Linked DNA regions of Homo sapiens. The protein of the gene in region 1 interacts with the protein of each later gene in a pairwise test. Each region holds a gene or a part of one and is shown in the gene's direction. Other genes may lie near its edges. The genes, in order: ALDOB, HIVEP1, AGXT2, MUC20, MAP2K4 and MLH3.

Region 1 (4,908 bases):
AAATGAGACATAGCCATGTCCTCCAGGAAGCTTGGAGTTTAGCCAAATAGGAGAGAGCTTGGCATGTTTAAATGTAAAGAAAGAGGAGCCAGAGGAGACAGTAAAGATGAGGAGAGTGGGGATAATTGAGTGGAGAAGAACTTAGAGGAGCAGGACTGCATGAGACTCAATATTAAGCATAGGTGGCACAGCTGGTGTAAGACAAAAAGGAGGGAAGAGGCAGAAAAGAGAATACAGTTGGAATCAGCTCTATATAAGTCAAGAGATGTAGCAGTTGATGACTGATTACAGTTGAGGGTATCTGCTGAGAATGATGAAGAAATGGAAATTTCAATACTGACAGTCGGAAAGCGTAGAAAAGCAGTTAAAGGAACTTGCTAGGAAATTGATCGGACGTTATGGCCAGACATAGCCAAGCATCAGGTAATGTGCAGCTGAAATAAGAGTGAGTGTGTGGTAGCTTCATTCCTGAGTTTTCCTAACAGCAGTCTAAAGCATGCAGGAAGATTCAGAACGCAAAATAGCGGGGTAGAAGAGTGAAAGTTTAATAGGAAGGTAGAAGAGTGACAAATTTTACCGATAGCCTCTGTTAGCTTGCTGACCATAGAGGAAGCTAGGCAAGGAATCAAGAGTAGTCAGAAGTGTGGTGATGAGGCCCTAAAGGGAAGGAAGGCCCCAGGGAAGCTAAATCATCATCTCACAGGCATAAGAGAGGTATCAGATTTTCAAAGTAGTGCTTTACCTTGACTGTGGAAAGCAGGGTGCAGCAGTGCTGCTGTGTGGCTGATGGACTGAGGAGACCTAGCTTACATGATGGAGGGATTGTGAAAGCGCAGGTCATCAGGGACATCCACACAGAAGAAGGGAAGCTGAGTTTATCATCAAGGATGGTGCTTCCCAAGCTCCAGTGTGGATCTGAATCACCTGAAGGTGATTTTGGTTTTGTTGTCATGATCTTTTATATTTACACACAATAATTGTATAGATCTGTGGGGTATCTGTGATTTTTTATATATGCATATAATGTATAATGATCAAATCAGGATAATTAGGGTATTCACTCCAAATATTTATTATTTCTTTGGGTTTGGAACATTCCAAATCTTCTCTTCCAGCTATTTTAAAATATGTAATAAATCATTGTTAACTATAGTCATCTTACTGTTGTATCAAACACTAGAACTTATTCCTTCTGCCTAACTGTATTTTTGTACCCATTACCAACCTCTTTTCATTTCCCCTACCCCCACTTGAAGCGCTTGTTAAAAATGCAGATTATGGGTCTCACCCACTGAGTTTCTAATTCAGTAGGTCAGGGGTAAGGCCAGGGAATTTCTATTTTTAACATGTTCCTAAGGGATGCTGGTAGACCATGAAACACAGTTGGAGAACCATTGATGTAAAATGTAGAAATAAGTCCTGGAGAGAACAGACAATAGCAACACTGACTGGAAGAAGTGGTACCACTGAGTGACATTCAAATATTGTCGTAAGTTTCATAATTCTGAATTTATCTTTAACTGGAATGTATACAGGAAAGCAAATGATACTACAATAACTAAATAAAAATTACATATTCTTCTAGACCAATATAGGTAGAAAATGGAAATGTTTTTAAAATAAACATGTTTTTCTTTTGGTATAGTGTACTATACTAGTGAGAAATTTTTCAACTTTAGTTTCTAGTACTGTTGCTGCAATATTGTTGGTACTGAACAGAGATTTCCCCAGTAACTGACACAAACCTCAAGCTTACCAAAGAAATGCTCAGAAAACTGGGATAAAAAGGGGAGATACTTTATAGAAGGGGATGGTATCCCCAGCAATATTCAGCAACATTGCTGTAAAAAGAAGAAAATCTGAGTGAAGGTTTGACTGGTTTCCCATGAGAGGCAGACAGGGTCAAGGTGGGGTCACATTTACTCTAACCAGTCTCCTCTCTCATATTTGTCTTCTAGGCTAACTGCCAGGCGGCCAAAGGACAGTATGTTCACACGGGTTCTTCTGGGGCTGCTTCCACCCAGTCGCTCTTCACAGCCTGCTATACCTACTAGGGTCCAATGCCCGCCAGCCTAGCTCCAGTGCTTCTAGTAGGAGGGCTGAAAGGGAGCAACTTTTCCTCCAATCCTGGAAATTCGACACAATTAGATTTGAACTGCTGGAAATACAACACATGTTAAATCTTAAGTACAAGGGGGAAAAAATAAATCAGTTATTGAAACATAAAAATGAATACCAAGGACCTGATCAAATTTCACACAGCAGTTTCCTTGCAACACTTTCAGCTCCCCATGCTCCAGAATACCCACCCAAGAAAATAATAGGCTTTAAAACAATATCGGCTCCTCATCCAAAGAACAACTGCTGATTGAAACACCTCATTAGCTGAGTGTAGAGAAGTGCATCTTATGAAACAGTCTTAGCAGTGGTAGGTTGGGAAGGAGATAGCTGCAACCAAAAAAGAAATAAATATTCTATAAACCTTCAGCTGCTATCGGGTTTCACTTTTCTGCTCTTGCTGTCCAAAGACTCAGTGTATTTCATTACTTTTGACTCTACTAGACATGACTGGGTTTCAACAGTAAAGGTCTTCAACTCTTGCTAGTCATTGGAATCAAGCCGCAAAATTTTAAAAACTGAGATGCTCAGGCCACACCCCAGCTCAATTAAATCAGAAACCCTAGACTTGGGATCCTCTAACTATTAGATTTCTTAAAGCTCCCTCAGTAATTCCAATGTACAGTCAAGTTTGAGAACTACCAATCTAAATTTCAAGTTTGAGGGTATTTGAAAATTAAAGCCATTCACAATACGAAGCCAGCTAAAAATGTAGAATGATTTTGAGCAACTTGTGGAGTATAATAAGAGAATTAATGTGACTTCAATGCTTGGAGCATTCTTGTTCAAGTGGCCCAGGTTTGGTGAAACAGGACTACCTTGTCATCTGCACGTCCAGGCATATTTCGTAGTTTTGCAGTAAATAATATTCACATAATGATACTGTATTGACTTTCAATTTTCAGAATTAACCTATAGTTACAGCACTTAAGACAACCAGAGTTATAAAAGAGAATTTAAATATTATAACTTTGGACAATATAAAAGTGATGATTTAACTGACAGAAGCTAGGAAATATAAGGGGGAGGAGAAGTGGAAGAAAGCAAAGAGAGTCAGGAATACTACTTAAAACTGATGGGTTAAGAAATAGTGCTTTAATTCTATTTAAGTAATAAAAGAAATGGATGTAAATCATAAAAATATATATCTAAAATTAAAATATTGATGGTAGTATGCTAAATTTCTTACCTTGAATAATACAAAGACAAATGGTATTGTGTAGATTAACAAATGAAGAAACAGAGACTTAACATATTATTTAGAGGAATAAGACAGAATTAGCCAAAGGGGCTTACTCTAAGACCTGGGAGAAAGACCTGGGAGTCAGGGCACAGGAAAGATGACATTTCCTTATTACCTGCCCTCTACAGTATTTGAATATTTATTTCCATGTACTTGTCATTACTTTTCTAAAAACAACTACAGACAGTCATACAAGCAACTCAAGCCTATATGAGAGATCTATTAAGCCCACGGTTTTCATTTTACAGGTGATAAAACCAAGTCCAGAGAAGTAAAATTACTTACTGAGGATCCCACATTTATAGCAGAGCTGAGAGATTAAAATTCAGGTCTTCTGAACTCAAGTCTCTTGCTCAAAAAGTGGATACACAGCCAGAGATCTTACAGGGCAAGGTGACAGGCTGTGTTCAATATCTCTGCCACCCGTGGTGTAGTCTTGTACATTTCTCCTTGTACATTTCAGTCAATCATCAAGCACTTCATCTCCTACTATGTGCCAAGCTGTCCTAAAAGCAGGTAGGTAACACCTTGTGAGACAAAGCTTTTCTGCCAGATAGTTTTTATCTAGATCCTACTCAGCATCGCTGAATTCTTTAGATATTTTAAGAGGTATCTAAAGAAACCTCTCAGATTCTTATCAGTTAACCATGAATTTATAATCAAGGATGAGTTACTTATATATTTTGGTCAAGGCTGAATTACATTTTACTGGGAATGAGGATTTATATAATGCATTTTCCTGGCTATCATCTGATATATTTTCCCTACTAAGGGACTACTGTTGTCTTTGAAATATTAATCCCAGTAATTTCCTCCTTTCACGGTAATATGCAGACAAGTGTTTTACAAGGCTACAGAGTTCAATTTCGCTGTGATTACTGAGTGAGTATTTAGTGACTTCCCAGCTTTGGTTACTTTTTCAGATTTACTTTAGTAGTTATTAAACACCTACTAAAACTAAAACCTGGTACTAGACATGAAAAATAGAGAAATTTCAGCTTTAGGGCACACCAGACAATTAAGCTTAAATAGCTAAGCAAGAAACACACAAACCATTGACTGGGGGTTGGTAAGTGGGATGGAGAGTCAGGGTGTAGAATCAGATGTCTGGGTGTAGGAAAGGGAGAGATGGCATTTAGGTTGGACATTACAGGAGAACAAAAAGGAAAGGAATTCATAGAGAGGATACTGCCTGTGTGTAAGAAAATACGTTCATAAGTCACTGGGAGAAGAAGACATTTTGAAGCTATCAAGAGCCAAGGCCACACACGCACACACACACAAATGACTAAGTTGTGGAAAGAATAAAAAGAGGAATTTGTTTTTACTCTGAAGAGGGAAGAGGGAAGAAGGAAGGGAATGGGCAAGAAAATGAGGGAAGAGAGGAAGAAATGAGAAAGGAAGGAAAAGGAGGAGGCAGGAAAGAAGCTAGGGCAATATGTAATTGTGGGGAGGTGACGGGCTTTTGAGAAGGAGGAGAACTATTATTAAGCAATCTAAAGATACTGTCTTCTTGTGAGGAAGAACTGAGTTTCTCATTTGAGTCT
Region 2 (5,550 bases), on another chromosome or scaffold:
TTTTAATAGTTGTCAGCACTCAGCTGAAAGTCCCATCTGTTATTGTCTACCTTTCCCTTTAGAGCCTTCAAAATATGAACCATAGTTATTTTAAATTCTCAGTCATTTCTAACATAGGTGTCATATCTGACTGTGGTTCTGATTATTGCTTTGTCTCTCTGAAGTATGTTTTTTTCTTGCCTTCTTGTATGCCTTGTAATTTTGTGTTGAAAGCTGTACATCTTGTGTAAGACAGTAGAGACCCATGGAAATTGTTTGTATCCTAGAAATGTGCATGCCTCTCCTTCCTAGAGGCCTTTAGTGTGGGAGTTAGAGTTTATCTAGTTAGGAGTTTGCTAGGTTTGAGAGATTTGTTGGCAGCTATCCTCACTGCAGGAAAGGCTTCATGTTCCTGTAGAGATACCTTGTGTTTTGGCTGGGGGTTGGATCACAAGAACATCACCTGTTCAGTTCTAGTTTTAGGTCTTCCTTTTGCACTATGCCTCAGAAAGGGTCTCTCTGCACATTCTTGTTCTCCTGTTTCTCTCCAAGCACTGTTTTGTTACCTGTAATGCTAAGCTCCTTAGCTTGACATTGTGGGGCAAGGAGGAGGATGGGGTGCTGTCTCTGTTCCGATTGAGTTACAGTCTCGTACCTGCACCATTTTCTTAGGTTTCTGGGCTGTGACCTTCTCAGTTCTCCTCCCTCTCCCCCAAGTGTTGTGGGAGTTTCTGTGTAATCCTGTCCCTCCCCAAGGAGACAGGTTGTATGTGTATGTTTTTCCTGTTCCCTTTCCACACTGCAGTGAGTTTTCAGCAGTGTCCTAAGGACAACAGTGCGTGCCGCCCTTCTCCTCACAGGATAGGTCTTTTGTTTTCCTGGTGGAGACAGGGGAGATGGATCCAGGTGTAGTTCCTTGCCACTCCTCTAGAGTTACTGCTTCTCTCCCCCATATCTGGAACACAGCGGACACTTCTTACCCCACCCTCCTGTGAGCACCTGGGTGATGGTCATGGCATAGATCCTGTGTGAGAATGTAACCCTCAGAGGTTTCACACAATCTTGGCAGCCCACTCTTGACTCTAACCAGATACTTGAGCGGGACTCCCCTGACTGGGGTTCTGTTGTGTCTGCCCTCGGTGACACAAGCTTGTGTCTCCTTAGATTTTGGGCTGTTGATTATCTGGGACCTCGGCTTATTGATGGGTTTGGAAAAAGTTAATAAGTTTAAAGTTAGGCTGTACGTGTGTGTGTGTGTGTGCGCGCGCGCGTGCACGTGCACGCTTGTGTGTGTGTTTAACGTAAACAGGTCCCATCCTTGTTAGACTTTACAGCAAGAGCAGCCTTGAATGAAATCATCCTTTCTCTCCAGTAACTTATTCTCCCAGTCATTCAGTTCTCTTTAGTCTTTTTACAAATTTTACTTCTTTAAAGAAGATGCGTCTCCAAAAAAAAAAAATACCTAATTTGCTACTGATGTGGCAAATTCAAGTCAAATTGAGGATGACTCGAATTTTACAATGCCAAACAATCCTGATGGCCAACTGTCTTATTCTTCCCCAGGGCCTTCTCCTCAGCCAGGGCGGAGGCTCGTTGTGGGCAGGGTCCTTGTCTTTTATAATCCTCGCAGAGTTGCCAAACCTATAAAAAATTTTTAAAATAGGCAAGGTAGAGAAGTAGCTGAGGTGCAGGAGTCTGGGTATTTACCCAGAAATCACACATTCTGTCTCCAGCATAGGCCCCTAGAGCCAGTCAATACTTTGGTATTATTTTATTTCATTACTTATTTTACAGCATAATAGTAGAACCCTAAAAGCAAAAGCCTTATGAAATCACATGCTAACAGAACCTAAATGCATGTTTCATCTTAGAGTTTTTTAATTATAAAAGTAGCACACGTTTGTGATAAATAATGTAAAATGTCAAGTTCTTTTCATCCCCTAGAAATAATCACCCTCCAATCTTTTCTATGGGTCTTCTAAGGCTTTTCTCTAAACTCATTTTTGTCATATACAAAGAAAAAGTAAAAAATTAATATCTAGGCCATTTGGGAAAGGCAGCCTATTGCTTGTTGCTCTGTTTACATGTTTGTCTCTTTTCAAAAAAATACCTGTAAGTGCAGAATGTATCACAGCTAAACTGTACATTGTCTAATGTCATCTTTATTATATCTCAGTGACATTCCTCCCCCATAACTAAATTTTATTAAGCTTTCAGTGGGAAAGAGCCTCTAATTTGCAAGATTTTGAAAATGTGAAGAGTTTAAAAGTTCCACATGAGCTTATGAGATTTTTGAAACTATTTCCTGGATCATCTTGAAGATTCCTTGTTAAACTCAGTTTCACATGATGTTAAGAGGCTGATACTAACGACTTTTAGATAATATCCCCCTTTCTATGAGGAATGGGTTGAATCATATCACAGAAGAAATTGACAGGAAATTGTAGCATCTCTCTGAGTAAATAAGAAGGCTTACACATTAGGTGAATATGACGACACGGAGGACCATTGAAACATGCCTGTGTCAACCAAAAGAAGAAGCTAAAGCACAAAGTGTGGTTGAAAGAGTTGACTTGAGCCAGAATAAGGACAGCTGCCCAGATGACTCACCCAAACTGCTTGCTTGGCCTTTGTTACAGGCAGATTTTTAAAGGCAAAAAGAAAAAAACAAAAACAAAAAAACAGGAGGCAGGGGAGGGGGGCCGGTGTTACCGAGTAGACTGTTAGACAGTTCTGTCAGGAATTCTCATGGATATACAGAAGTAACAGTGATTAGTGACTGCCTGTCCACGGTTAAGCTATAGAATGTGGGATATAGTGTCCAGTGCCACATTACTAGGTTAATTCACAGCTACCTGTGGCAATGGGAAGCAGCTTCAGTAAAGTGTGGAGTAGGATGTGATTGCTGTCTCATCTTAATGCCTCTTTGGGGCCTAGTAATTTGAAAGGGCCCACATTCCTCAGATAAAAGTCCTTTTCTTTCCTCATCTATAATACTATTCAAATCTAAAGAAAATGTATGTTGCTCACAGATACCAACAGCCATCAGTTTTTTGTGTTTGATTTAATTTGTTCAGTAAAAGGAAGATACAAAATAGGGAAAAAGCTCAGGAAAAGAGTTGCGTTGAACTCTTTATTAATTTTATATGTAGTTCAGTTGTGTTTTAAAGATTTTCAAGTGCAATCTTAGAGGCCTTCATTTCCTTGTTTCTTGATTACCCTCCACCTGCCTCATTCCCCTTCTGAGAGTCATTTCCCATTCCTCGTCCCTGACCCCGGCCCCTCCCGCAGAGCTGCCCTCCTCTGAATCCTGATGGCCAACTGTCTTATTCTTCCCCAGGGCCTTCTCAGCCAGGGCGGAGGCTCGTTGTGGGCAGGGTCCTTGTCTTTTATAATCCTTGCAGAGTTGCCAAACGTATAAAAAATTTTTAAAATAGCACTTGTGCACTTGGAAAGCATTCCATCACATACCTCTTGGTTGTTTTTATTAGATGAAAAACAGAGATTCAGTTATGAGCGATCTGGATATGATCTTGAAGAATCTGATGGCCCAGATGAGGATGACAATGAAAATGAAGACGATGATGAGGACAGCCAGGCTGAATCAGTCCTGTCAGCCACACCCTCAGTCACAGCTAGCCCGCAGCACCTTCCATCTAGAAGTAGCCTTCAGGACCCTGTGAGTACTGACGAGGATGTCAGGATCACCGATTGCTTTTCTGGGGTACACACGGACCCAATGGACGTTCTGCCCAGGGCGCTGCTCACCAGAATGACTGTCCTGAGCACAGCACAGTCTGACTACAATAGGAAGACACTCTCTCCGGGGAAGGCCAGGCAGCGTGCTGCGAGAGATGAAAACGACACAATTCCGTCTGTAGACACTTCCAGGTCCCCGTGTCATCAGATGTCTGTGGACTACCCTGAGTCAGAAGAAATTCTGAGAAGTTCTATGGCAGGAAAAGCTGTTGCTATAACACAGGTAAATGATTGGCAGTTGTTCTTTTATTTCTTTTTTCGTTTTAACCTATTAAATATGGAGAACTTAATGGCTTAAGAAAATAATGCACTTAAGTGATTTTTTTAGGCCAAATCAGTTTGTATAGCTTTATTTTTTTCTTGTATTTAAGGGTAGAGGGTATTTTTGCCCTTTGGAGTCTTGTTGAGTATCTTAAGCAGTTCAGATATTTTATTGTAAATCTATGAAAGAACCAAATGGTTCTTGAAAAATACACCCATTTATTTTTATTTGCTTTTTGAAAAATTTTTGAAATTAAAAAAAAAAAAAAACGTGACAGTGGCGAACACAAGTCCCGCAACTGATTTATCTGCTGGCCCCTTCTGAGCAGTTTCTCCACTGGTGCTGATGTGATGATGGATTTTCACTGACTTACCCAAACATTTTGCACTTTGCCCCCATTGGCAAGACAGCTACCAGTTTCTATGGCAAAGTTAATGTGACCCGAAAACACATCAAGAAGTTCACTTTGCTTGAATTATCACATTGCTACAGCAGCTTGGGAGAGCTTTCTGCCCAAGAACTATCTCAAGGCAGGCACAGGCCTCTGAAAAGTCACGCTCCATGTGCTGTGAGTGAGTCCCTGCTCTACCTCTGGCTGTTTTGTGACAAATGATTAATTCTGGGAGGAATACATTCTTCCCTCATTGACAGTTCTCTTACCTCTAGTATGTATTGAATATTGCAATAGGATTTATGCCTAATTGTGGCAGATTGTGCTGTAAGCGTCTCTATCCCAAAACCTCTCAGACACTTACCAGTGCCTGGAAATCTGGTTTTCAGTAGACATTTCATAAACTTGCAAGTGATAGACAAACAACCAGAGAACTTTTTCATAGTAACATCTCTTCACAAATAATTCTTTAGTTCATTTTTCCCCATTGAGTTGACATAGCCAACTTGAATCTCAATTTCTCAGTAACTCTTAATCTCTAAAATAAGGTGGAGCTGGTAGTGCCAGAAACAGAAATAATAACAAAAATAGCAGCTTAAGAATATAGCTGTGTCCACTTCTCAGAGTTATTCTCTGTGTACAATATGACAAAATCCAGGAAATTTGCTTCAGACATGCAAAAGACTATACAAGATGTATTGCCATTATTTCTACCAGAAACGAAATTAAAGATGTAATAATTGTTTAATTGGAAGCTTATTTTTAAAAATCGAAAAATAATTTCATTGCAGCAAACATCATTTTTATCAATGCAAATATACTTACTTTTATCTCATTGTGAAGAAATAGATTTAGCACTAGCTTTATATCTCAGTGATTACAAAAGACCTGTCATAAAAGGATTGCTCTCTCTTGTCATTTAGAGCCCATCATCTGTAAGACTTCCTCCTGCTGCAGCTGAGCACAGCCCCCAGACAGCAGCGGGGATGCCTTCTGTGGCCTCACCACATCCTGACCCTCAAGAACAGAAGCAGCAAATAACTCTACAGCCGACTCCAGGCTTGCCTTCTCCCCACACTCATTTGTTTAGCCACCTTCCTTTGCATTCCCAGCAGCAATCGAGGACACCTTATAATATGGTTCCAGTTGGGGGGATCCA
Region 3 (6,143 bases), on another chromosome or scaffold:
CCCTCTGTCCAACCACAGGACAGACTGTGCACCCCAGGGAGATGCTGTGTGTCCACTGGCCTCACTGACTTGGATTACTCCTGCAGCACGTGACCAGCCAGCTCATATGATCACTCCCTACTGCCCCCAAAGCAGAATTGACTGGGAGCTGGAAACCCACACAAAAAGGGACAATTATATTGAATGTAACATACTCCCTCTGCTTACCTAGTGCCTTCACCTCCTATGGGCATTTGGAGTAAAAGGTTGTTATGCAGGTGTTTGTGAAGGATGTGGCCAAGTCAGTTGTCTCCCTTACAGGGTGACCCAAGATTAATGATATCTACCCATCCCCAGTCCCTCGACCCCCTAGTTGCAATCAGCTTTGTCACTGTCCCCCTTAGGCACTGCCATGTAAAGCACGTGGTCCCCCATTCTGAAGCAGTGGGAAACCTAGAAGAGATGTACTCTTCGCAACCTGGTTGGATCTTAAAAACATGGTTCTAACTGAAAAGAAAAAAGACATATTACACATATTTACATAAATTAAAACTGCATTCACCCTAAACAATACACATTTTACAAGAATGCGTTCCAACAAAAGGATATATATAAGCATGCTAAATACTTGCTTATGGGGATTGAAGGTAAGGGGAGGCTGGAGTGGGATAAATAGGAATTTAAGAAATAATGAAAATAAGGCACACTAACTCCTTAGCTCTCAACCTTTTGCCTTCCTCAGACACATAAGATGATCCACAGCTGTCCAGAACCTTACCTAGCTATTTGGTACTCTCAGCTTTTCTTTGGAATGGCTCCTTCCCCATTGTTTTCTCCTCTCTTTCTCTAAGACCCCCAAAACCAATTTATTTGTTCATTCACTTCATGCATATCTTCCTTTTTCCTCTCTTAGTCACATACCTCGTTTCACAATCTCCGACCCCTTCAACCATGTCCTGATCCTTCTCCCACACCCAGCACCACCCTCCTGCAGAGAAAAGTGTACCCGGATGAAACTCCGATGGAATATTAAACTAACAGAACTTGTCAGATGACCTTTGCTTTATCTGCCTGCTTTCTTTCCTCTTCCCTTCTGTTCTCTTCTTTTCCTTTCTTTTCTCTCCTCTTCTCTCTCTCCTTCCTATTTTCATTCTATCTCTTTTCCTCACTCTCTTTTTCTCCCCCTTGAAGGCACTGTTACTAGAAATAGAGAGCTCTGGGGCTTGCCTGAAGCCATGGGCAGTCACCACTCCAGGATTCCCCTTTTAGCGCCTCCTCCCCATCTTAATCTCAAAGTCCAGCAGGATAGTGAGCAGTTAGAGCCCGGCCTCCAATCTGCTTCCATGGGGGTTGGCTTTCTGAGTGGGAGAAATGACTCTAATCTGGAGACATTTGCTGAGACCCTTGTGCCTGGTCACTTCCGCTCCCAGGATCCTTGAGATGCATCCTTTCCTGAGCCGTAAGTGGAAACCAGGGGGACGTGGGTCAGTAGAGGATCAGCGAGAGGGTAAGACTTGAGCTCCGAAGGCTGCTGCCTGGGATTCTGGAATGTTAGACCTGGGTGAGGTCTTAGAGATGAGGCATGTTTTTGACACACAGGTTCTCACCCTGAGTCAATGCCCCATTTTCATAGCCAATATTTTGTAATGCTCCTTTTTGTTTTGAAATGAAATTCGTGGATAATGAAACCCGACTATACACAATTTCAACATGACATGCTATCTCAGCTTCAATATTTTTAAAAACCAAAGGAAAGCAATCAAAATAGAGTGTGACTTCAATTTACAGATGCCCAAGGATGATTTCTATTTTTTCTTTTTTGAGACAGGGTCTCCCTCTGTCACCTAGGTTGGAGTACAGTGGTGTGATCATGGTTCACTGCAGCCTTGACCTCCAAGGCTCAAATAATTCTCCCACCTCAGCCTCCTGAGTAGCTGGAACTATAGGCACATGCCACCATGCCTAGCTATTTTTCTTTTTTAACTTTTGTAGACATGGGGTTTTACTATGTTGCTCAAGTTGGTCTCGAACTCCCGGGCTCAAGCAATCCTCTCACTTCAGTCTTTCAAAGTGCTCGGATTGCAGGCCTAAGCCATTGCACCAGGCTAGGATGACTATTTTAAAAGATGTAAAGCATCTGCATGAATTTTCATCATGCCTCTAGGAAGTGAGACCACGCTCTCAATTGCCAACAAGTGCTGTGATTCACCCAGAGTCATCCAAGCCAGGGCTTGACCCCAGGCCCTCCCCATCTACTCAGACTCTCCTCTCTGCAGCAAGAACAGAAAATATGAGGAGATGTGGGGTAACCAGACATTGGTGGCTTTATGAGTAATATCCTATATGCTTGTGATTTTCACATGGATCTTGTTTCACGAGAGCCTCACCTCCTCCTCAGCAAATTCCCTCATGCAAACATGAGATTAAGCAACTGTCTGTACATTTATGTGCCTGTGCTTCACGGGCCGTAAACAGGTACAGGGGACCATTTTACATTCCCCATTGTGACCAACTTTGCCTTCATTTTCTCCTCATATTTCCCTTTCACCCTCCTTCCTTCCTCTCCTCTTCGCTTTCTTACCCCTGAAAATTGCAGTTTTTTGAAACTTGACACATGCATGATGCTTTAAATGCATTATCTCCTTTTATCTTCAACCAAACTTGTTAGTGAGTACTATTATCTCATTCCACAAATGAGGAGACAAGAGAATAAGGAATATCTAAGAAATGTGGTCAAAGGCAGAAACATGTATGTGATAACTTGGGATTCAAAGCCAGGTCTATCTGACTCCGAACTCGAAGAGATTCTACCAGGCCCTGTCTATCCTCCCCTAGTCTTCCAATCCTGTTTGGACTGCTCTTTTCCCTTGGTCATGAGTTTCTTTTGCCAGAACATCACCTAACTCCAACATTTTCTCAGAAGCAGGTAAAATTATAACCAGTCTTATGCTCAGTGAGGAGGAAATTATGCTGAAAGTACCAGCTGTTGACCTAGCAAGAGAAATGCCCTAGACTGCCCCCTCCCCTTCCCTACCCCAACCTCTGAACATTGTGGAGTTGCACAGTGGAGCAGCAGGTAACCTAGAGAGGGCAGGTGAGGCCTAGTACCTAGAGATCTTGAGCAACTCGTTGGCGACGCCTTACCATAGGCCCAGCAAGGACACTACAGGGAAGCAGTCTTGGAAAACCACACCACTGGCCGGGTGCGGTGGCTCACACCTCTAATCCCAGCACTTTGTGAGGCTGAGGCGGGCGGATCACGAGGTCAGGAGATCGAGACCATCCTGGCTAACACGGGGAAACCCTGTCTGTACTAAAAGTACAAAAAATTAGTCGGGCATGGTGGCGAACGCCTGTAGTTCCAGCTACTCAGGAGGCTGAGGCAGGAGAATGGCTTGAACCCGGGAGTCGGAGCTTGCAGTGAGCGGAGATTGCGCCACTGCACTCCAGCCTGGGCGACAGAGTGAGACTCCTTCTCAAAAAAAAAAAAAAAAAAAAAGAAAAAAGAAAAAGAAAAAAACCACACTACCTAGACTGAATGCTATCCTCATCACCTGGCCTTGCAAAAACCTTTGGGACTTTTATGTCTACTTTCTTACCTACTCTACCTAGGTCTGTGCCTGTTTGTGCTTGCTCATCCAAACACACACTCACTAACATACATTTATTGAGCACCTGCCATGTGCAATATATACATTCAGGCAAAATATTTGAGCATCTATTATGCACCAGTGCTGCAGACTTAGCCACAATAAGCAAGAAAAAGCTCCTGCCCTCTATTCCAGGAAGGAGATAGACATAAATGAATAAGTAAATATGTAAAAATATATATGTGTGTGAATATGTATGTATTTATGTATGTATCCAATAGAGACACATGCCATGAATAAAACCAAATCTGGAAAGGGAATAGAAAAATATAATGGGGGTGAGGGGAGGGGCTGTGATAGGGAGGTCACCACGTTTTAAGTGTTGTTTTATATGCAAAAATAAATAAGTCACAATTCTTGTATAGTATCTACATAGTTACTGTACAATATTCATATGCATAAAATGTTCAGCTTTGTTTACACTTTGATATGCACAATCACTTTGGGCTAACTGTGTATACAAAGTTATGGAAGCAATTTGTTTTCAGTACAAAAGTGTGGAGAAATATCTCAGTGGGGCATTCTTTCCTACAATTAGCTAATGACTGAAATATATAACATTTGCAGGTGGCTGGGGTATGTGCTCCCATGTACCAATTTCCTAATATATGCCTGCTCTCCCACAAAGGAAGGAGGGCACAAAAAGTCATCTATTTCCAGCTGAGATGTTTCTCCATTCCTGCCAAGCCTATTTTAAGAAAACATTTAAAATTTGCCCTAAAGGGGGGCCTCCCATCTACACCCCTCCAGGCAGCCTTGCCACAGTCAGAACTGATTTAACACATGCCAAGGGCCAGGAAGGGTGATCACAGAGAATGCCTACTCCCGAACGTGCGGAAGAAGACCCACCCACCTCAGAATCAGGAATCGAGGAGTGCTCTTGCTTGTGGACAGCCACAACTGCCCCTGTGTGGCTTCAGCAAAAGGGCATATACTGGAAGGTTATGAAGGAATGGAGGGAAGGAGGGAGGGCAGCTGAAATAATCAACAGGAGGCTGAGGACGTGGACAGGACCCCACACGCAAAGAAGCCAAGGAAGGCCAGGCAGGAGTAGAGTAACTTCTGGTAGGAACCGCCTCTTAGCAGCTTTGCTTAGCGGATGCAGGCACCTGGCATTCACTGCCATCATCCTTGCACCCAGAGCACGCATGGGACAGAGGGGACCTCCACAGAGAAGGCTGTGAGAGATCATGTCCGGAGCGGATGATACCGAACAGCAATGGTGAGGGTCCTCAGCAGCGTGCTGCAGACTGCGGCCCCATGTGTGAAGAGAAAACGACCACTCTGGAGTCTCCAAGCTGGCAGCTCCAGCACAGAGAAGCAGAGGAGAAAAATTTCTCTACCGACCAGACACTGTCCCTCAGGCGTCCAAACCCCAACACAGCTTCAGCAGGCCTCCATGGGAGGCAGTGTCTCAAACGTCAATATCAGTGAGGGACTTCAAAACTGCCAAGGCCTCGAATTCCATCTGTCACTGATGTCCTCTAAGGTGGATGGAGGATGAAATCTTCCTTTCCTAACTCGTTGGCAATCCCAAGTATCAAATGAGATTGCAAATGTGACAAGGTTTTTTTCAAGTTACCTAAGATGCTATACAGAAATGAGATACAATTGGCATTTTGGGCCAGGCTTAGTGGTTCACGCCTGTAATCACAACACTTCCAGAGGCCAAGGCAGACAGATGGCTTGATCTCACAAGTTTGAGATCAGCCTGGGCAATCTGGAGAAACCCGATCTCTACTAAAAATACAAAACACTAGCCGGGTGTGGTGGCATGCCCCTATGGTCCCAGCTACTAAGGAGGCTGAGATAGAAGGATCGCTTGAGCCTGAGAGGTAGAGGTTGCAATGAGCAGAGATTCCACCACTGCACTCCATGTAAGACCCCATGTCTATTAAAAGTAGGAAAAGAAAAATAGCTGGGCATGGTGGCTGGTGCCTATGGTTCCAGCTACTCAAGAGGCTGAGGTGGGAGAATTGTTTGAGCCTGGGAGGCCGAGGCTACAGTAAGCCATGCTCACACCACTGTACTCCAGCCTGGGTGACAGAAGGAGATCCTGTCTCAAAAAAGAAAAAAAGAAAGAAATCATCCCTGGGCATCTGTAAATTAAAGCCATAATTTATTTTGAAAGCTTTTCTTTGATTTTTAAAATTATTGCAGCTGAGATAGCATGTCATTATTTTCACACATTATATGAGCATTGGGCAACAGAGCCAGACCTGTCTCAGTAATAATAATAATTAGCATTTTAATAAATCACACTGTGTCCACTGCATATTTTCAAATATTTTAGAATCTTTTTTTCATTTTAAAGGGTGAGGAAGCCCTTAATAAATACTCCCTCTGGGCTGAAAACTGGTTGTGAATACTGAAAAACTCGTTATCATTACAAAGAGAATTTTCCCTAGAGTTTCCAAATGCCAAAAAAATTTGATTTTTCTCATTTACTTTGCCCAACAGTTTTTGTCATTCGATATTATGATTTTGGGGAAAGAAAATAAAGTTGCAGTGAAC
Region 4 (5,124 bases), on another chromosome or scaffold:
TCATGTGTATGAAAAGGCAGCCTTGTTAGCCATAGATTCACAAGGGACTTCCATCTCCCCACATTTTCTTTTCTTTTTTCTTTTTCTTTCTTTCTTTTTGTTTTTTGAGACGAAGTCTCGCTCTGTCGCCCAGGCTGGAGTGCAGTGGTGCGATCTCAGCTCACTGCAAGCTCCGCCTCCTGGGTTCACGCCATTCTCCTGCCTCAGCCTCCCAAGTAGCTGGGACTACAGGCGCCCGCCACCACGCCCAACTAATTTTTATGTTTTTTTTTTTAGTAGAGACGGGGTTTCACCGTGTTAGCCAGAATAGTCTCAATCTCCTGACCTCGTGATCCACCCGTCTTGGCCTCCCAAAGTGCTGGGATTACAGACATGAGCCACCGCACCCGGCCCCCTCTCCCCAAATTTTCATGTCATCTGGGGAAGTGCAGGTCTCCATGGCCTGCAAGGGTCACCATGACTGACAACCCAGTCAGGATCCCATAGAGGAAGGATGAGCCCCAAGAAAATAGGGAGGCTAGGCAGAAAAAACCGCAGAGATGTATACTCTAGATGAGGACCATGATTGGGATGTATTTGTACAAGTTGGGAAAATTCTCCTAAAACCCACTGGATAGAACTTCCAATGGTAAAGTTCCGGGGTCAGGGTTTTGAGGATGGGGATGGTGTGGCTTGTTGGAGGTTAGACTGGGTCAGCTCAGTGCAGATGTCACGGGCCTGGCCTCACTGAGGGGTGGGTTGTTCTCCTAATGTGTGGTACAAAGTAGCAGATGGGGCATGATGGGAAGTGTCTAAGCTCTGCTCACAGATGTAACCGTGAAAACAGGCCCAGTGCACAGTCTAATGTGGATTGCCTCTTTGACAGTGCCCTTGCTAATACCTGAAGCTTGCATTCAGCACCTCTCACAGTCAATGGGACAGTGCCCTTGCTAATACCTGAAGCTTGCATTCAGCACCTCTCACAGTCAATGGGTGCCACACTGCTGAAAAGTGGCTCAGGCTTCCTGTCATCCCTTGCAAGGGTAAACCTGGCAGAGATGCTGGCTGGGGGTCTTATGCCAGGTGTAGAGTTCATAGCCAGGCTGGACAGGTGGAATGATTGCCCTTAGCAGAGGGAAGCAAGATATGTCCGTGGAGAGTGGGATCCTTTGTTGCAGGCGAAAGAAAACCTCTGTCTGTCGTAAGTAAAAGGGGGATTTGTTGGCAGCGTCCCAGAGTGCATAGAATCAAAGCAATGCCAGGACAGCAGGCTTGGAAAATAGGCAGGAGGGCCCCCAGGAGCTCTGAGGTCCAGACAGTGGGATCAGGCTGGCTGGGACACTGTCCCTCTTGCTGGTCAGTCACTATTGGATGCTGCCACAGCCAAGGGGCATCACGTGGCCTGCACACACATTCACATAGGTTCTCGCTGCCTTTTTGTCTCACTGGACTTTTTGCTCCAGAGCCAAAGTCCTGAGTAGGAACATTTGATAGGCTGAGCTTAGCCCTTGTACTCCCATGAGCCCACAGCCAGGTGCCAGGGGACGGGAAGAAGGGATGTCTGTGTCCTTGGAGTTCTCTTAGCAGCAGTGAGGCCAATCGTGACTCCCACTGTGAGGAGTTCCCTAAACATGGCACGGGGGCTCGACACCCGATGGCCAAATAAGTGACAAATGCCCCCGGCATGTGATAATCAAAGTAGCGAGTGTGAATCCTTGTGGGAGAGGGAAGCCAATTGCTTTTGTTTTGTTTTGTTTTGTTTTGTTTTGTTTTGTTTTGTTTTCTGAGACTGAGTCTCACTCTGTCATCCAAGCTGGAGTGCAGTGGTGCGATCTTGGCTCACCACAACCTCCGCCTCCCAGGTTCAAGCCATTCTCCTGCCTCAACCTTCTGAGTAGCTGGGATTACAGGCCCGCACCACCATACCTGGCTAATTTTTGTATTTTTAGTAGAGATGGAGTTTCAGGTTTCAGCATCTTGGCCAGGCTAGTCTTGAACTCTTGACCTCATGATCCACCCACCTCAGCCTCCCAAAGTGCTGGGATTACAGGCGTTGAGTCATTGCGTCCGGCTGGGAAGCCAGTTTTCTTTTTCTTTTTCTTTTTCTTTCTCTTTTTCTTTTCTTTTCTTTTATTTTTCTTGAGACAGATTCTCGCTCTGTCGTCCAGGCTGGAGTGCAATGGCACGATCTCGGCTCACTGCAACCTCCACCTCCCGGATTCAAGCAATTCTCCTGCCTCAACCTCCCTAGTAGCTGGGATTACAGGTGCACACTACCACTCCTGGCTAATTTTTGTATTTTTAGTAGAGATGGGGTTTCTCCATGTTGGTCAGGCTGGTCTCGAACTCCTGACCTCAGGTGACCCACCTGCCTCTGCTTCCCAAAGCACTGGGATTATTGGCGTGAGCCACCGCACCCGGCCGGGAAGCCAGTTTTGAATCTCAGGTCTAAGCCCCCAAACCAGAAATGATTTCAGGAATCGGAAAGAAACCGCGAGATCAGGAGCAGGTCAAGCAGCTGAGGCGCAGGCACCAGGCCACATGGGGTTGGGCATCAGTTCTCGTCCGGGGACAGCCCAACAGTTTGGGCTCGGGGATTAGACAATGAGCTTAGGAACCAGCTAGATCTGGGTGTGAATTCTAGTTCCCAACTGTGTGATCTTGGATAAGTTATTCTATGCGACTTTCATCCCTTATAAAATGAGGATCCTAACACCTGCTTTATAAGGTTGCTGTGAGGTTTAGATGACATAATGTGTGTGAGGCACCAGCCTGTGTCCAGCATGTAGGAGGCCCAGGAAGGGTTGCCGTCCTCCGCATGCACTCTGCCCCAGTGTCCCTTCCTGTCCTCTGCCTCTGGCGAGCTCATGGGCCAGATGGGCTGAAAGGACAGCTGGCTCTTTTGCTCTCCAGCTCCACCGGGAACTCCACGCCCACGCGCCTCACTTCCAGGTCTCCTTACTGCGTGTCAGGAGAGGCTAACGGACATCAGCTGCAGCCAGGCATGTCCCGTATGCCAAAAGAGGGTGCTGCCCCTAGCCTGGGCCCCCACCGACAGACTGCAGCTGCGTTACTGTGCTGAGAGGTACCCAGAAGGTTCCCATGAAGGGCAGCATGTCCAAGCCCCTGACCCCAGATGTGGCAACAGGACCCTCGCTCACATCCACCGGAGTGTATGTGTGGGGAGGGGCTTCACCTGTTCCCAGAGGTGTCCTTGGACTCACCTTGGCACATGTTCTGTGTTTCAGTAAAGAGAGACCTGATCACCCATCTGTGTGCTTCCATCCTGCATTAAAATTCACTCAGTGTGGCCCAGAGGCTGTCTATTGATCTGCATGCTTTCGCCATTTTTATAGTACAGGGATTGTGTATAGTCTCACTGCTACCTCCTCCTTCTACTCCCCCAGGTCTTGGTTTGGACTTTGATGATAGCATTTACTGAGACGGGCCTGGAGCCTGTCGAACAGCCCGCTGCAGCAGGGCAGGGACCACCTTTGTTCATCTCAGTATCCCCTGAACTAGCAGAGTGTCTGGCCTGCAGTGGGATCGCAGAGAATGTGGAATTGACCTAAATTTAAATTTCAAGTTCTGGACACAAGCCTCAATTATTCCTCTTATATGTTATAACTTACATGCTATTATTTTTTTAAAAAATTAATATGGTTTACTTTTTATTATAAAAGTAAAACTTGGCCAGGCTCAGTGGCTCACGCCTGTAATCCCAGCACTTTGGGAGGCCGAGGCCGGTGGATCACGAGGTCAGGAGTTTGAGACTAGCCTGGCCAACATGGTGAAACCCCGTCTCTACTAAAAACACGAAAATTAGCTGGGTGTGGTGGCAGGTGCCTGTAATCCCAGCTACCCAGGAGGCTGAGACGGGAGAATCACTTGAACCCGGGAGGCAGAGGTTGCAGTGACCCAAGATCCTACCACTGCACCCCAGCCTGGGCAAAAGGGCAAGACTCTGTCTCATAAATAAATAAATTTAAAATAAAAGTAAAACTTGTTTATGATTTCAAAATTTTGAAATATTCCAAAGACCAAGCAAAGTAAGAAGTGGGAAGAGGAGAAAGAAAAACTTTTCTATAATCCCACCTCTTAGATACAACGATTTATTTTTTAAAATTGAGACAGGGTCTCACTCTCACCCAAACTGCAGTGCAGTGGTGCGACCATGGCTCACTGCAGCCTCCACCTCCCAGCTCCAGTGATCCTCCCACCTCAGCCTCCTGAGGAGCTGGGACCACAGCTGGCTAATTTTTGTACTTTGTTTTGTAAAAAAGGGGCTTTACCATGTTGAGCAGGTTGGTCTCGATCTTCTGAGCTCAAGCAGTCCTCCTGCCTCAGACTCGCAAAGTGCTGGGATTACAGACATGAGCCACTGTGCCCAGCCTTATATACAGCTATTATTATTAATGTATACTGTGTATTCATTTCAATTCTTAATCTCTCCACTTGGATGTTGATGAAATACATACCTCACATTCAACATTTCTTTCTTTTTTTTTTTCTTTTTGAGATGGAAAGGAGCCTGGCTCTGTCACCCAGGCTGGAGTGCAGTGGCGTGATCTCAGCTCACTGCAAGCTCCACCTCTTGGGTTCACGTGATTCTCCTGCCTCAGCCTCCTGAGTATCTGGGACTACAGGTGCCACCACCATGCTCGGCTAATTTTTTGAATTTTTAGTAGAGACGGAGTTTCACCGTGTCAGCCAGCCTGGTCTCAAACTCCTGACCTCAAGTGATCCACCCACCTCGGCCTCCCAAAGTGCTGGGATTCCAGTTAATGAGCACTGCTCCTGGCCTCCACATTTCTAAAATCGAAGTTCTGATCTTTTCCTCTGGACCTGCCCCACCTGCATCTTCCCCATCTCAGTTAACGTCAGTTGCATCCTTCAGGTGCTCAGGCCGAAATCCTCGGCACCGTCTTTATTCCCCTCTCACATTTTGCACCAGGAAATTCTGCTGGCTCTAAGGCCATCAAACTGTGCCCAGAATGTGGCCCCTCCTCAGCATCTCCAGTGCTACCACCGAGATGGTCCACGATGCCATCATCTCTCACCTGCACTACTACAGGTCTCCCTGTTTCCAGCTCAGCCCCCACCCCAGTCTAGTCCCAGTGTGTCAGCCAGGGCTGTCTTTTTACA
Region 5 (4,106 bases), on another chromosome or scaffold:
TGGCGGGCTCTCCACTGAAGTACACCTACCTGCTCTCACCTTCAATTTGCCTTTAATGCCTCTCCACTTGATGTTTACGGCTAGCCACTTTTAGGATCTGAGCCATCAAGATGATGGATGAAATTGGGTTTGGAACAAGAAGGCAGGGCTATTTTGACCCAGGACACATTTCCAACATGCTGTGAAGAACTCTCAGCATCAAATAACATCTGGGTGGAAGAAGTTTTGGGAAAGAAGTCTAGCTGTAGATCACACAATGCTTCTAAATGGGAGAAAATGTCCAGCTCCATGGCTTAGATTCTTTGGGAAGTAGGATAACTGGCTATTCCATTTTAGGCAAGGCTGCCTGGCCAGAAACCCATGTCTTACCATTTCGAGTACATTATGGTTGGCTTACAAATCGTAGCCTCATAGAGAACTTTTTCTTCTTTTAGCTACTGTCTTCCTAAAATAAAAGTCTCTGTGCAAAGCAATGGAAGAAACCTCATATTGTTTTTTGGGGTTGTCATTTTATGTAACTTACAATAATGACTACGGCTCGTCTTATACAAGATGTAAAGGATTTGGGAGAGGGAATCCAGTGTGCATTTAGGGGAAGATGGTGATGTAGATAGCATATTTCAGGAGGCTGGGAAGTGTCGAGTGCTTAAATATATGCTTCTCAAATTTAATGGGCATACAAATTACCTGGTGGTATTATTAAAATGTAACCTCTAATTCAGTAGTTTTGGGATGGGTCCATGGACAGCACTTTGGTTAGTTCCCCTTGGGACTCCCCTTTCCCCTCAGAGAAGTGTAGAGGGTTGGGGTATTGGGCTTAAGAGGAGTTCCAGACTGTAACCATAGCTCTAGGTAACTCCCTTCTGGAAGTGATGTGTTAGCGACTGGAGGAGAAAGGGATCCCTGGGATCCTTTTCAGCTTTACTATTCTGATTTGGGGTTCTGAGATTCCAACAAAGTGGACTTTTGGGAGTCACAGACCTCCATGGGAATGATGAAAGCTGCGTACCTTCTTTCCGCACAAATGCAGGCCCACCTTTAATTCTGCAAACCACTTTAGGCCCCGCGGGCCCGCAGCCCTGGTCCAAGACAGCTGTCTGCTTCACAGGTCGCGCACCCAGAGCCGGGCGGTTCTGCAGCTCAGCATCTGGCCCGGGCTGCGCGTCGGGCTCTGGCGGGGGCGTGTCAGGAGGCGTGTCCGGGGCGTGTCGGAGGCGGGGCCAAGGCGGGGGTAAGCCTCGCCCCTCGGCCGTGCGAGAGGCCGAGCTTGCTGCATTGCAGCCGCCGCGGCGCCGCTCGGCTCTTCACTCCCAACAATGGCGGCTCCGAGCCCGAGCGGCGGCGGCGGCTCCGGGGGCGGCAGCGGCAGCGGCACCCCCGGCCCCGTAGGGTCCCCGGCGCCAGGCCACCCGGCCGTCAGCAGCATGCAGGGTAAGGAACGCGGCCGCGCCGAGATCCCAGCCCCCTAGCGCGGCAACCCGCGTCGTCGCGGCCTGCCCCAGCGGACGCCCCCGGACCCGGCTGAGGAAGCCACGGCAGCCGCCGGCTTCTCCCTCTCTCCCTCCCCGGCTTCCCGCCCCGCTCCCGGCCGCCTCCGGCCCGGCTTGGATCCGGGCTCCGGCCCGCATAGGCCCCGGCCGCGGCCTCTGCCTGCGCTTGGCCCCTGGGCCCTACCGGGCTCTCAGCAGGCCCGCAGGGCCCACCTGGTCCGGGACCGCCCCCGCGGCCGTCCCCATCGCCCCCGCCGCTTACCTGGCGCCCGCCCGGCCCCCGTTTCCGGGAACGCGCCGGCTCGGGGCTGCGGCGGAGCGGGAGGGGCGTCGGGCCTGCCCCCTGGTCCCTGACGCCGCTCAGGTAGGCGGCGAAGACAGCGGCCCCGGCCGGCGCCCCTCGGCCCCGCCGCCGCAGTGGGCCCCGCTCAGGGCCATCTTGGCTGTCGCCGGGCACAGCTGGAGCCGGACCACCGAGCTGACCTCGGGCTACGGGGGCCTCTTGGAACCTGCGTTTTCAAACTTTTGCAGGGTTTCTGTGCGCTGGAAGGGATGGGGGTGGGGGGCGGGTTGCCCAGGCCTGTGCCACCTGTAAGGTAGGTAGGCTGCATTGGCCTGGGAGAGGCATTTTGTTCCAGGCCAGGGATTTCTGTGTTAGCATTGCGTGCAGGAAGAAAAAAAAAAAAAAAAAAAAAGAAGACTTAATTTGGTTTAAATGGAGAGATACAGGAAATAGACAGGGGTCAAAGTGATACTGTAGTGTCTGGACATTTGAGGCAGCTCTGCTAATTAATGACTTTCCCCACTGGGAATGCTTATTAGCTGTGTATGGCTTTTGACAGGGGGTGTTGTGAAAATACCAGGCCAGGCCCGAGCCTGTTAGGGACCATTTCCTTAAATTTACTGGGGAATTTTGAGTAGTAATGCTATTTTTAAAACAGGGAATCTCAGAACTCTCTTGACAACTTTAGCAAACTGCTTGTGTTGAATTATTAACAGAATAAGGGTTGGGGTACCCTTGGTAGTCAGTGTGACCATGGTTACTTTTTGATTCCATTCCTCTTAAAGGGCTTCTAGCATTTAGTTAGGTTCAACAGACATTTATTGAATAGTTCATGTTTATAGAGCATGCCATAATTCAGAAAGAAGAGACAGGATTTTATTTATCTTTACATCCCTGTCACCCTCCCCATGAAATAATTTTAATATACATAAAAACCAGTGATAGATATATAGACAGGATGATGTCAGAGCTTAGAGGACACTTTCTGTGCAGGCCCTCAGATAATTCATTCAAATTGAATTAGTTATTGGATGCCCACTGTGTTGCACAGCACATTATACTGATGAAGTATAAGATTGACTTCCTGACTGTACAGCTTTACAATTTAGGTGGTGGTGGTTGGGGCGAAATGAAATGGCAAAATGACAATTTAGGATTGTATTTCTTGTTCCAGATGGGTGACTTACAAAGCTTATAAAAACAAGGTGATTTGTTTGTTTGTTTTATTGGTGGGGAGGCTGACAGTTTGAAATAGCTGGATACAGTGTGTTTTTTTGGTTCAAAAAATATTTATTGAGCATCTGCATAAAACGCTCATGCTGAGTTTATAGAGAATTGAACATCTCTAACTGTCCTCATGGAGGTTATCCCCCTGTGAAGATGGGGGAGGGAAGGCTATTTAGCTAAACATGAAAAATTACTAGTTGGAAAAGTAATAAAGGTAACAAGCTGGGTTTTGTGATAGAAGATAATAGAGGGCAGTCCGCTTGATAAGATGGTCAGAGAAGGCTTGTCTGGAAAGCTAACCCTCTTTTACCTGAAGACGGTTCTAGGCAGAGGAACTGTGTGTATGAAGGTTCCAAAGCAGGGAAGAGCTTGGAGTGTTCTAGGAACTCCTAAGGCAGTGGTTAGGACTTTTTCTGATGCTGTCCGTTCTCCTCAGCCCTTGTATGTTGATACCCAGTTAACTAAACTTTCTAATAAGCAGAACCCATTTTAGAAGGAAAAAGGACCTAAGACCTCTCTATGAATTATTGCCGAATTTTCTTTTTTATCAATATTGTGTCTAGTCTTGATTGATTCAGGAATGTGTTATATCTTGTTCTTGAAACTTTTTTCATTAGTCAGAATGAAGTGCTTGATATTCTCAGGATGTTGTCTAGAACAGTCTGTTATAAAGCTTGAACTTAAGCAGCAATTTAGGATCCTTCTTTTTGGTTTGTTTTGTTCTGTATCTTAATTGTGAGGCCCTTGAAGAGGAAATCTTATAAGAACCCAAAAAGAAAGATTCCCATCCAATTGTATGGGAGTCACACCTCCCATACTGTACTTCATCTGCCAAGGGTCTTCTTTTGCTTTAGATCAGACTTCACAGAGTGGGCCTTAGAAGATGTTTGATGTACTTCCATTCCTTCTCCCCCAATCTAATTATACTTGCCACTCAAAAAACTTCCTTTCTGGGAGTTGTTAATGACCATGCTCTCTGAAACAGCAGGATTCAGTTGTGGAACATAAGGAATGTTTCATGCAGTAGACATTGGACATCCTCTTATGTGGTAAGCACTGTGGTGGGCACTGGATAACCTTGAATACTTTTTCATGGCTTCATGTTT
Region 6 (5,550 bases), on another chromosome or scaffold:
GGAGTGCAATGGTGCAATCTCAGCTCACTGCAACCTCCGCCTCCTGGGTTCAAGCGGTTCACCAGCCTCAGCCTTCCAAGTAGCTGGAATTACAGGCACCCGCCACCCACGCCCAGCTAATTTTGTATTTTTAGTAGAGACGGGGTTTCTCCATGTTGGCCAGGCTGGTCTCGAACTCCTGATCTCAGGTGATCCGCCCGCCTTGGCCTCCCAAAGTGCTGGGATTACAGGCATGAGCCAACCCGCCTGGCCAATTTTTTTTTTAAGTTTTCATTATCTGGAATTCTTTGTTGTTTTTGAGATCAGAATCTCTACTAATGATACTCAAGATGGGTGTAACTACAAAATCTGCAGATGTTGAAAGAAGCAAAATGGATCTGTTGAAATTTCTCTTTTTTTCTTTACTTTTTTTTTTTTTTTTTTTTTTTTGAGATGGAGTCTTGCTCTGTCGCCCAGGTGGGATTGCAGTGGTGCAATCTCGGCTCACTGCAGTCTCCCCTTCCCGAGTTCAAGGAATTCTTCTGCCTCAGCCTCCCAAGTAGCTGGGACTACAGGCACCTGCCACCACGCCCGGCTAATTCTTGTATTTTTAGTAGAGACAGGGTTTCACCATGTTGGTCAGCTGATCTTGAATTCCTGACCTCAAGTGATCTGCCCTCCTCAGCCTCCCAAAGTGTTGGGATTACAGGCATGAGCCACAGGCCCAGCCAGAATCTGTGTTTTAATAAGATCCCCAGGGGGTATGTGATATGAACGTTTGAGAAGCCCAAGTCTAAGGCAGGATAAACATGGCCCGAGGGGAATCTGGGCATCACCTCTTTCTGTACAGCCAGGGAGATGGGAATGGTTTTTACATTTTTTAATGGTTGGGAAAAAAAAAGAAGACTATTTCTTGACACATTAAAATTATATGAAATTAGTATTTCAGTGTCCATAAATAAAGTTTTATTGGAACACAGCTACGATATTCACATATTGTCTATGGCTGCTTTGGCTCAAAAAGAATTGTTGAGTAGGCATGACAGAAATCGTGTGGCCCAAAAAGCCTAAAATATTTATGATCTGGCCCTTCAGAAAACGTTCTCCGGCTTGTGATCTAAAGTGCACTGGAAGTACATTCTTTGTGGGTTTCCAAGTAGCTTGTACACCAAGGTTAGCTGATTATAACAATGTGTTGTTTAACGATCCTTTATCATATTAAAGTTGAATTAATAAGGCAAAATCAGTATTTAAACATAAGAATTATATATTCAAGCTTCAAACTTGAGGAAATGCCACTTTGACTTTTTTTTTTTTTTTTAAGATGGAGTCTCACTCTGTCACCAGGCTGGAGTGCAGTGGTGCAATCTCGGCTCACTGCAACCTACACCTCCTGGGTTCAAGCGATTCTCCTGCCTCAGCCTCCCAAGTAGCTGGAACTACAGGCGCGTGCCACCACACCCAGCTAATTTTTGTATTTTTAGTAGAGACAGGGTTTCACCATGTTGGCCAGGATGATCTCGATTTCTTGACCTCATGATCCGCCCGCCTCAGCCTCCCAGTGTGCTGGGATTACAGGTGTGAGACACTGCACCCAGCCCTGACTATGTTTTCTAAATGAGATGCTGGTGAACTAAAGAGTTTCTTAGTTTACCTTTTGTTTCCTAAAAAATGAAATTATGGGGAAAATAATAAAACTTATAGGATAAAAATTAGTAATACTGGTAATCTCTGGAGAGAGAAACTAGAAGGGGTGGGGGCAAGAGTATAAAGGAGACTTTATTAAATTCCCTTTTGTGCCTTTCAGAATTGGATCTGGGATTCAAACATATGGGATAAGTTTGCTATCATTTTCCCCATAATTTCATGTTTTAGGAAATAAAAGATACAATTGTTACTCCTCAGAATGTTTTGTCTTATGCTGTTGTTAGATAGTTTGAATTAAGTCTTCTCTGTCCTCAACACACATGATGGTTGTCGTCTTGCTCTGAGAATCAAAGTTCACAATCCTTGCTCATCTAGGTGGGAACCTGCTCGTGCTGGTGGATCAGCACGCTGCCCATGAGCGTATACGTCTGGAGCAGCTTATCATTGGTAAGGATCTGTTTGCAGCCAGAAAAAATTTGAGACTCCCAGCAGAATCAGTACACCTCAAAGAGCTTTTCTAACTGCAACTGTTGTGAGAAAGCACACTTTGTACTGTATGTTCAAAAATTAAACTAAAGTCCTGCAGTTTGGCCTGTGTTATAATTGAAAGAATGTGGTAGTTCACTAATTGAAAGATGTGAACTTATTTATGTGGTCAGAGGCATATTTGCCAGATGTTATTAACAACCCAGAAGTACGCAAGGATAGGCTGCTTACTCTGACATCCAGCACAAAGCTCTGCCCCTCCATATGCCCGGTGATCTTGGCATGCCTTCCCACACTCCATCAGGCAGAGACCAGTGGCAGCTCAGAAGGCCCAGTATGCTGTTTTGATTTTAAAATTTAGTTTGCTTTTGAATATGCAGTATAATCAAATAGATCCAATTCTGAAAGGCACAAAAGGGAATATAATAAAGTCTCCTTTCTATCCTTGTCCCCACCCCTCCTAGTTTCTCTCCCCAGAGACAACCAATATCTCTGGTTTTTAAATCTATCTTTCCAAAGCAATATATGCTTTTTAAATGTTTTTTTTTGCTACCCTTTTCCTCATCATGAGGCAGTGTGTTCACCAAGTGGTAAAATACCAGGAAAGTCTTTACTCCTGTGGCCAATGAGTAATGTCAAAGAGTTAGGCAAGGACCTAAGGAGTGCTTCATGGACTAGAATGGCAATGATATTACTACTGTTTTCACTTTTCCTTATAAAATGACGGCCTAAGAGTTGGGAAAGATATAGTAAAAACAGTGTTAGAAAAACTTACCTCTACAGGCCCTGCACCATTTGAGAATAGTACTAATTCTCTCCAGAGACTGGGAGACCCTGCTCAAGGAAAGGGAAGCCTTCTGGAGCCATAAGACTGTGTGGTCAACCCACATATGTTCCTGGTAATCCACATTATTCACCTCTGTCATCAAAACAACATTTATTAACTACAGGAACATTGGCTTGTTCATCTGAATGTAAGATGCAAGTCTTATATTTCTTATTTTGAAAAATACTACCAAAATTGTTAATAGGCTGAATATTTATTAGTTTGACTTTAAAAATGGAAATCCAAAATCTAAAACTGAACATTAAACATTCTGCTTTGCATTAGAATGATTATCTCAAGGCCGTGCTTTATTTTTATCTGAATCTAGAAGACTTCCCTTCCTACTCTTAACCCATTCATCTTTCTGCCAATAGATTCCTACGAGAAGCAACAGGCACAAGGCTCTGGTCGGAAAAAATTACTGTCTTCTACTCTAATTCCTCCGCTAGAGATAACAGTGACAGAGGAACAAAGGAGACTCTTATGGTCAGTACCACCATGAGAATGTGATGTTGATGGTATCAATTCTCACAATAATTCTGTGAGGAATAAGCATAACTATTGTTCCATTTCTCAGATGAGACCAAGAGAGGTTACAAGACTTGTCTAAGGTCATAGCAGTTATTAAGTAGTGGAGCAGGCACTCAAAGGCAGGTCGTCTGACTCCACAGGCTGTTTGTTTCCTTTTTTAAAATATATTTTTTTCTGCATCCAATCATCCATTAAAATATTTATTTTGTGAGACATGGTCTCACTCTGTTGTCCAGGCTGGAGTGCAGTGGCACAATCTCTGCTCACTGCAACCTCCACCTTCCAGGCTCAAGCAGTCCTCCCACTTCAGCCTCCCAAGTACCTGGAACTACAGGTGAGCACCACCATGCTGGACTAATTTTTGTAATTTTTTGGTAGAGATGGGTTTTCGCCATGTTACCCAGGCTGGTCTGAACTCCTAGGCTCAAGCGATCCTCCCACTTTGGCCTCCCAAAGTGCTGGGATTACAGGCGTGAGCCACTGGACCCAGCCTATTCTTTCCACTGTATCCCAGCTGAAGAGTATAGGATAGAGTTTCCCTGATAATTTTTTCCAGCAGTTGGCTTAGAACACTCTTCTCATTTCTTGGAACAGTCTGTGTTTATGCCATGCTTTGTGAAAGCAAAGTTTCTGCAGTAATTGGTCCCATTCTGCTTTGCTTTGGTGCATTCTAGACTCTTAGTTTTCATTATCGTAATCATAATGGGAAGAAAGTAAAACATTGGGATGTAAGGAAGGGGCGAATCATATAGTGAGTCACAAGATAGGATATTTTTCCTCTTCTAGGCAGCACAAATTATTGAAAATGAAAAAGAAATTTCTCCCAATATGTTTCAGGTTTGGGAATATGATACTGCCAGTAAATCTTTTTTTCCCTATGACATAATTTATATTAGAGGCAGATCTATTTACTTACATCCCGTTAGTCAGGACTTCTCAATTCCTTGGGCTGTTAATTACCTCCCTGCTTTAATGCTGATTCAAATCACTCTCAGACCTTTTCTTCATGCCAGACTCCCTTAAGTGCCAGCAGCCAGAAGTTAGCAGTTCCTCAATGAAGAAAACACACTTAGAAACAAGACTTAGACACAGATTGATTCCCAATGGAAAAGAGAAAAACAATAAAGGTTACTGTAATTCAAAAAGGAAATTTGATAATAAAAAATCCCAAACACCCACACATAAGTGTGAGAAAAACAATACGGTTGTTAAGCCCTGTGGCAGCTTTTGAAAAACTATTAAGTAGTATTTGGAACCAGTAGTGAAGTGCAAATGAAGTAGCACTCTTTTTTTTTTTAACATTTGAGGTTATCTCTTTAGGTGTTACCACAAAAATCTGGAAGATCTGGGCCTTGAATTTGTATTTCCAGACACTAGTGATTCTCTGGTCCTTGTGGGAAAAGTACCACTATGTTTTGTGGAAAGAGAAGCCAATGAACTTCGGAGAGGAAGATCTACTGTGACCAAGAGTATTGTGGAGGTAAGACACAGCTGCAGATGTTAAGGAAATTGCTGAGTGATGGTAACCTCATATTTTGTCTGTAGATTCTCTGAATTCATCTTTTCTTCAACAAGTATTCATGGTATTTACCTGCGGTGTGCCAGGAGCTAGAAATTCAGAGATGAGTTAGCTCAAAATAAGGAAGAAGGGCATTTAAAGAATTATAGTCAGTGAACTTTGGCTAGTAGAGGTATGTGTTTTGCTTTCTTCCCAGTGATAAAGGTAATGAAAACTAAGAGTCTAGAATGCACCAAGATAGTTTTTCAGAAGTGTTATGGAAACACAGAATGACTTGTGTGCCTGGGGAGGTGAAGTCAATGAAAATGTCACAGAAAAGCTGTTTTCTTAAGAAAAGTTTTTACTTTTGAGAGACCAGGTCTCACTCTGTTGCCCAAGCTGGAGTGCAGTGGTGCAATCATAGCTCACTGTAGCCTTGATCTCCTGGGCACAAGCAATCTTCCTGCCTCAGCCTCCCAAGTAACTCGGACTACAGACACGCACCACCATGCCTGGCTAATTTTTTCCTTTTTTTTTTTTGTAGAGATGGGGGCCTCACTATGTTGCCCAGGCTGGTCCTGAA

Evidence for each region.
Region 2: the proteins of ALDOB (region 1) and HIVEP1 interact in a two-hybrid assay, tested with the Homo sapiens proteins (one large-scale study listed by BioGRID and IntAct).
Region 3: the proteins of ALDOB (region 1) and AGXT2 interact in a two-hybrid assay, tested with the Homo sapiens proteins (one large-scale study listed by BioGRID and IntAct).
Region 4: the proteins of ALDOB (region 1) and MUC20 interact in a two-hybrid assay, tested with the Homo sapiens proteins (one large-scale study listed by BioGRID and IntAct).
Region 5: the proteins of ALDOB (region 1) and MAP2K4 interact in a two-hybrid assay, tested with the Homo sapiens proteins (one large-scale study listed by BioGRID and IntAct).
Region 6: the proteins of ALDOB (region 1) and MLH3 interact in a two-hybrid assay, tested with the Homo sapiens proteins (one large-scale study listed by BioGRID and IntAct).

The regions. Positions count from the first base shown.
Region 1 is NC_000009.12:101,418,955-101,423,862, reverse strand, and holds the end of ALDOB (fructose-bisphosphate aldolase B), read left to right. Parts: intron 1-1,958; coding exon 1,959-2,054; 3' UTR 2,055-3,303; downstream 3,304-4,908. UniProt on the Homo sapiens protein: Catalyzes the aldol cleavage of fructose 1,6-biphosphate to form two triosephosphates dihydroxyacetone phosphate and D-glyceraldehyde 3-phosphate in glycolysis as well as the reverse stereospecific aldol addition reaction in gluconeogenesis.
Region 2 is NC_000006.12:12,157,969-12,163,518, forward strand, and holds part of HIVEP1 (zinc finger protein 40), read left to right. Parts: intron 1-3,470; coding exon 3,471-3,961; intron 3,962-5,314; coding exon 5,315-5,550.
Region 3 is NC_000005.10:35,043,100-35,049,242, reverse strand, and holds the start of AGXT2 (alanine--glyoxylate aminotransferase 2, mitochondrial isoform a precursor), read left to right. Parts: upstream 1-1,293; 5' UTR 1,294-1,350; coding exon 1,351-1,438; intron 1,439-6,143. UniProt on the Homo sapiens protein: Multifunctional aminotransferase with a broad substrate specificity. Catalyzes the conversion of glyoxylate to glycine using alanine as the amino donor.
Region 4 is NC_000003.12:195,730,258-195,735,381, forward strand, and holds the end of MUC20 (mucin-20 isoform a precursor), read left to right. Parts: intron 1-2,892; coding exon 2,893-2,961; 3' UTR 2,962-3,294; downstream 3,295-5,124. UniProt on the Homo sapiens protein: May regulate MET signaling cascade. Seems to decrease hepatocyte growth factor (HGF)-induced transient MAPK activation. Blocks GRB2 recruitment to MET thus suppressing the GRB2-RAS pathway. Inhibits HGF-induced proliferation of MMP1 and MMP9 expression.
Region 5 is NC_000017.11:12,019,571-12,023,676, forward strand, and holds the start of MAP2K4 (dual specificity mitogen-activated protein kinase kinase 4), read left to right. Parts: upstream 1-1,306; 5' UTR 1,307-1,316; coding exon 1,317-1,431; intron 1,432-1,752; exon of another isoform or gene 1,753-1,957; intron 1,958-4,106. UniProt on the Homo sapiens protein: Dual specificity protein kinase which acts as an essential component of the MAP kinase signal transduction pathway. Essential component of the stress-activated protein kinase/c-Jun N-terminal kinase (SAP/JNK) signaling pathway.
Region 6 is NC_000014.9:75,029,942-75,035,491, reverse strand, and holds part of MLH3 (DNA mismatch repair protein Mlh3), read left to right. Parts: intron 1-2,001; coding exon 2,002-2,073; intron 2,074-3,312; coding exon 3,313-3,424; intron 3,425-4,776; coding exon of another isoform or gene 4,777-4,789; coding exon 4,790-4,949; exon of another isoform or gene 4,950-4,950; intron 4,951-5,550. UniProt on the Homo sapiens protein: Probably involved in the repair of mismatches in DNA.